2 separate regions of the Homo sapiens genome follow, and region 1 is linked to region 2. Evidence: fine-mapped expression QTL. Tissue or cell type: whole blood. Region 2 holds a variant in brackets; the other region holds the start of a gene. All regions are shown on one strand. Distances are between the middles of the regions.

Region 1 (2,900 bases), 82 kb after region 2:
CTCTGATACTGGCCCCATCTCTGTCACCTTGCACTGCTGGCTCTATGCCACCTGCAGACTCTCGCGGCCTCTCTCTCCCTCTCTCACGCAGCACCCCTCACAAAATCTGGGACTTGGCACTCTCGGTCCCCCACAGGGATCAGCATTTGGATGAGAAAATACCAGGCTCGAGCTGCTCTTAACCACGTTTATTGAGAGGGGCCGGGGGAAGGGGATGGACGGTCCTCCCCGCGGCGGGGTTTTCAGCCCTCGCGGGTGGGCAGCGTCTTGTCCTCAGGTGTAGATGCTCCAGTCTCGGCTCAGCCAAACACTGTCAGGGCCCCCTGGAAAGCAGAAGCCGAGCTTGAGTGCCCCCAGCCCTGCCACCAAGAACTCAGGCGGGGGCGCGGCAGCGGCCGGCTCTGTGGGGAGCGGGAGCGGGGCGGTTCCGCTGGCGTCTCCGGGGGACGCGCACCCGCGCGGGGCCATCTCCGCCTTCCCCGCCCCTGCAGCTCGGATGCGCCCCACCCAGTTCCCACCCGGAGACCCGGGCTTCTCCCAGGGACAGGGCTTGGAGGGGCAGGACGGGAAACAGCCCTGACGTAGGGCCGGGACACCTCTGGTGCAGTTTTGAGGCTGGCCGGGAAGGGATGCCCGCGCAGGAAGGGCACCCGGGGTGCCCACTTTACCAGCAGGGCCTTCAGGGCCTTCACGGCCCCCACGGCCTGGGGACCCAGCTCAGCCACACACTTCTGGGAGCCCTCTATGAGGTGGTTCACGGGGATGCCCAGGCTGCTCAGCAGGAGCTTCAGCGGGTTGAGGGTGCCGAGGGGGTTGGCCAGGGTCCCGGCCCCGGCCTCCGCCGCCGACTCCAGCGCAGCGACAGGCTGGGCCACAGGCTTGGCCGAGCCCACTAAGAAAGCAGCAGCTGCAAGCGAACAGGGAGGGGTCACCGCCTGCGCGCCGGGGTCCCCAGAAGGCAGGTCCAGGACGCGCCCCCGCGGGAGGCGCCCAGGAACCGTCGCGCCCTGCCCGGCTCCCCGACCGCCCCTCCCTCCTGCGCCGAGGCCTGCCAGGTGCGAGCCCCCGGGACACAGGCGGGTCTGGGGAGGCGGCCCCGCCAGGAGACGCTGCAGGGTCACCGGAGTGGCCTGAGGGTGGCGGAAGGACCGGTGAACTCTGTGCAGGGTCCGGGACAGGCCCCCAAGGGAGGGGACACTCGCGCTGCGCCTTGCAGGATGAGGAGCCGGTCTCCAGACGGGGGGCAGACGGGTGTCCCCAGGCCAGGGGCGGCCTCCATCCCGGCACGAGGCTGGAGACAGCCCTGAGAGGGGGAGGCCGCGGGCTGCAGGCGCGGGGCCCCGGGGTGGCGGAGCCCTCTGGGCGCCGGGCGAGGCTGGAAGGACCTGGGATCCACGATCGGCGCAGGCAGCGGCGGGGGCGCAGCGGGCGCCGAGGCCTCAGGCCCCACCGTGCGCGCCAGGAGCCCGGGGCGCTCACCGGAGCTGCAGGACAGGGCCACGCAGAGCCCCAGGAGGGCGGCGAGCTTCATGGCGCGGGGGCTCGGGGCGCGCGGGGAACCTGCGGCTGCCCGGGCAAGGCCACGAGGCTTCTTATACCCGGTCCTCGCCCCTCCAGCGCCGGCCTCGCCCGCGCTCCTGAGAAAGCCCTGCCCGCTCCGCTCACGGCCGTGCCCTGGCCAACTTCCTGCTGCGGCCGGCGGGCCCTGGGAAGCCCGTGCCCCCTTCCCTGCCCGGGCCTCGAGGACTTCCTCTTGGCAGGCGCTGGGGCCCTCTGAGAGCAGGCAGGCCCGGCCTTTGTCTCCGCGAGGCCCACCCCGGCCCGCACCTTCGCTTTGCGGTCTGACCCCACGCGCCCCCCTGCAGGGCTGGGCCCGGGTGAGGGGAGCTTCCCTCGCGCCAGGGCAGGGGCGGGGGCGGCGCAGTTCCTGGCTCCCTGGTCCCTGCCTCTGATCCCAGACCGTGGCAACGTCGGGCACTGGGGGTCCTCGTGGGCGCCTTCTGCGCCTGGGGAGGTGGAGGCGCCAGGGACGATCAGGCCTCACTCCCGGCCGCCTCCCCGGCCGGGCCACAGGCAGCCACAGTGCAAACAGAAGTGGGGCGTTTTTCTGTCTTCGAAACTAGCCTCGACGCCAGTGGATGGGCCTGGTTTGTTCCTGAGTTTCTCTAAATGTCCTCACTCGTCTGTCACCTGCAGAAGTATGACAGATGGAGAGCAAAGCACATTTTGAAAACTTTTGCAAATGATACATAAACTAATTTGCTTTTAGTCCTTCTTCTTTCCTCTATTTTTTGACCCCAGGCATTGAGCACTGAGTGACTCACGTTTTGCTGCGTGGCTGCTCTCAGCTAGGTTGGTGCAAAGTCTCTCTTTTCTTTTGTAAAGTGTAGCTGGCACGCGTGGGAAACAGGCTCCCGGGTGGGAGGACCTGACTCTTCAGGCAGTGTCCTGGAATTCCTTCCCTATGGCTGACAGCACGTCTTAGCCCTCAGCCACCCCGAGCTACTGCGGCCTCCTCCGCACCTGCAGACACTTGTGCCTTTGCCAACTGTTGTGGCCAGGCACACGCATTCACACTGTTTCTGTTCACTTACACTTTTCCTTGACTATTTTGTTTGGGGGATTTTTGCATTATAAATCTGGAGTTTGGTTGTGTTTTGTTGGTCATCATGGAAGTAATTTTAATGGGAAATACGTTTTCTTTTTTAAAAACAGTTTGAAGTTAATTACTTTTTTGGTGGTGGTAAAGACACTGTCTTGCCGTGTTGCCCAGGCTGGTCTCGAACTCCTGAGCTCAAGCAATCCTCCCACCTCAGACTCCCAAGTAGCTGGGACTAGAGGTGTGAGCCACCACACTCAGCGGATTTTGATTTTGTTTTTTGTTTGTTTGTTTTTTGAGA
Region 2 (2,900 bases):
TCATATTTTTGGTTTGGAAATCTGGGTGTAAGCATAGGAGAAAGGGCAGGATTGAAGACCAAGATGATAATTTGTTTTTTTAGTATGAGACGGAGTCTCGCTCTCTCACCCAGGCTGGAGTGCAGTGACGCAATCTTGGCTCACTGCAACTTCTGCTACCTGGGCTCAAGCGATTCACCTGCCTCAGCCTCCTGGGTGGCTGGGACTACAGGCGCACGCCACCATGCCCAGCTAATTTTTGTATTTTTATTAGAGACGGGGTTTCACCGTGTTGGCCAGGATGGTCTCGATCTCCTGACCTTGTAATCCACCTGCCTCAGCCTCCCAAAGTGCTGGGATTACAGGTGTGAGCTACCACGCCCAGCCTAGTAAAGTTTTTTATTTTATGTTTTTATTTTTTCAAGGCAAGGTCTCACGGTCACCCAGGCTAGAGCACAGGTGCCATCATGGCTCACTGCAACCTCAATCTCTAGAGCTCAAGCAATCCTTCCACCTCATTCTCCCAGGTAGCTGGGACTGCAGGTGTGTGCCAACATGCCCAGCTAATGTATCTTATTTTAATTAATTAATTAATTTTATTATTATTATTATTTTTTTTTGAGAGGGAGTCTCACTCTCGCCCAGGCTGGAGTGCAGTGGCGTGATCCTGGCTCGCTGCAACTCTCACCTCCCGGGTTCAAGCAGTTCTCCTGCCTCAGCCTCCCGAGTAGCTGAGACTATAGGCAAGTACCACCATGCTCAGCTAATTTTTGTATTTTTAGTAGAGACAGGTTTCACCATATTGATCAGGCTGGTCTCAAACTCCTGACCTCGTGATCCACCTGCATTGGCCTCCCAAAGTACTGTGATTACAGGTGTGAGCCACAGCGCCCGGCCTATTTTATTTTATTTTTATTTTTTTATTTTGAGACAAGGTCTGGTTCTGTCACCCAGACTGGAATGCAGTGGTGCGATCTTGGCTCACTGCAACCTCCGCCTCCTGGGCTCAAGCCGTCCTCCCGCCTCAGGCTCCCAAGTAGCTGGAACTACAGGGGCATGCCACCACACTTGGTTAATTTTGGTATTTTTTTTTCTACAGACCAGGTTTTGCCATGTTACTGGTCTTGAACTCCTGGGCTCAAATGATCTGCCAGCCTTGGCTTCCCAAAGTGCTGGGATTACAGTTGTGAGCCACTACACCCGGCCCTGATTTTTTTTGTTTTTGCTTTTGTCTTTTTGAGATGGAGTTTTGCTCTTGTTGCCCAGGCTAGAGTGCAATGGCGGATTCTCGTCTCATTGCAACCTCTGCCTCCGGGTTCAAGTAGTTGAGATTACAGGCATGCGCCACCACACCTGGCTAATTTTTTTTTTTTTTTTGTATTTAGTAGAGATGGGGTTTCTTCATGTTGGTGTAACTCCTGACCTCAGGTGATCCACTTGCCTCGGCCTCCCAAGGTGCCGGGATTACAGGCGTGAGCCACCACACCCAGCCTAATTTTTTATTTTTACGTAGA[G/A]ACAGGATCTCCCTATGCTGCCCAGTCTGGAACTCCTGGGCTGAAGTGATCCTCCTACCGTGGCCTAGTAAGACCTTTTTGATACCTTGGTGTTTTTTTTTTTTTTTTTTCACTAGCTACTCTTTGTTAAATTCCTCCTATGCAATTCATATGGTTTGCTTTGGGAGATTATCACGGGGTTCTGATACCAAGATACCTGCCATAGTATCATCAGCAATTTATAGTAGTCTCAAAATGTGTAGTTATGATTTAAGTTTTGCCTGTTAGTCAAGAGTAGTTATCTTTTGCAGAAGCTTTTTGTTGTTGCTGTTTTTTGTTTGATTTCCTACAAGGAAAGACTAATGATAGACATTTGCCACTAAGGACAGCTCCTAAATGAGGTTTATCGTCTGTAAACCTTTTTTTTTTTTTTTTTTTTTTTTTTTTTTTTTTTAAGAGATGGTGTTTTTCTGTGTTGCCCAGGCTGGAGTGCAGTGGCTATTCACAGGTGCAATGATAGCACGCTATAGCCTCAAACTCCTGGGCTCAGCCTATCCTCCTACCTCAGCCTTCCGAGTAGCCAGGACTTCTATCCGTAAACTTTTAACTGGCCAATATGTGAAGGAAACCTGACTAGAAAGAGAAACAAACAAATGTGATGACATTGGGAGGCAGCAGATTTTGGGTTTGAAGTGAGAGTAGAAGTGCCTTAACTGAATTGAGGCTGCGAGAAAGGCTTGTGACTATCGTCTAATGGAACTAAGTGGGTTTGTTTATACTAGAGGCACAGGCACATATTTTTAATTTGTAGAATTCAAATCATACACTTGGCAAAACAGCAGGCGAATATATTAAAGAATGTGGTAGGCCTGCCATCTCAGTCATAATTGTAATTTGAAATTCCAGAGTATGTGTATTTAAAAATAGCATTTATTAAATTATTGTCTTTATATGACATTTAAATGTTCATTATCTAAAAGTTTTAATATACCTATAAATGAATTGTCATTTAGATTGTATTCAAAGAGGGACTGATTTTTGGGTGAGTGTCTTTTGGGGCTTTTTGTTTTGTAATAATGGAAAATAGCACAGTTACTTTTTTTTTTGCGACAGAGTCTCGCTCTCGTCACCCAGGCTGGAATGCAGTGGTGCCATCTCAGCTTACTGCAATCTCCATCTCCCGGGTTCAAGCTATTCTCTTGCCTCAGCCTTCTGAGTAGCTGGGACTACAGGCACCTGCCACCATTCCCGGCTAATTTTTATACTTTTAGTAGAGATGGGGTTTTGCCATGTTGGCCAGGCTAGTCTCGAACTCCTGACCTCAGGTAATCTGCCTGCCTCGGCCTCCCAAAGTGTTGGGATTACAGGTGTGAGCCACCGTGTCCAGACAGGCAGGTTTTTTTTGGCATATGTTTGTAATTTGATTTC

Alleles and levels. Positions count from the first base shown, and alleles are read on the strand shown. Sizes are in standard deviations (SD) of each study's normalised expression.
With allele G in place of A in region 2, the expression in whole blood of the gene that starts at base 1,568 in region 1 is lower (large effect, 1.6 SD a copy in TwinsUK).

Evidence for each region. PIP is the estimated chance that this variant, and not a neighbour inherited with it, causes the effect. A credible set is the group of variants that fine-mapping cannot tell apart.
Region 1: it holds the start of SCGB3A1, and the variant in region 2 is the best candidate, but not a certain one, in a credible set for the expression of SCGB3A1 in whole blood (TwinsUK, PIP 0.54).

What each region holds. Positions count from the first base shown.
Region 1 is chr5:180,589,932-180,592,831 of GRCh38, forward strand. SCGB3A1 (secretoglobin family 3A member 1) reads right to left here and starts at 1,568. Exons shown (of 3, transcript NM_052863.3): 1 at 1,480-1,568; 2 at 669-907; 3 at 174-323. The coding sequence starts at 1,531. The coding sequence ends at 300. RefSeq lists enhancers at 1-429, 430-1,099, 1,100-1,769.
Region 2 is chr5:180,508,244-180,511,143 of GRCh38, forward strand. The region is part of intron 1 of CNOT6 (CCR4-NOT transcription complex subunit 6); the gene reads left to right. Among named protein-coding and RNA genes, the nearest start is that of CNOT6, 15 kb to the left of the region's middle. The variant G/A (reference allele first, on the strand shown) is at 1,494.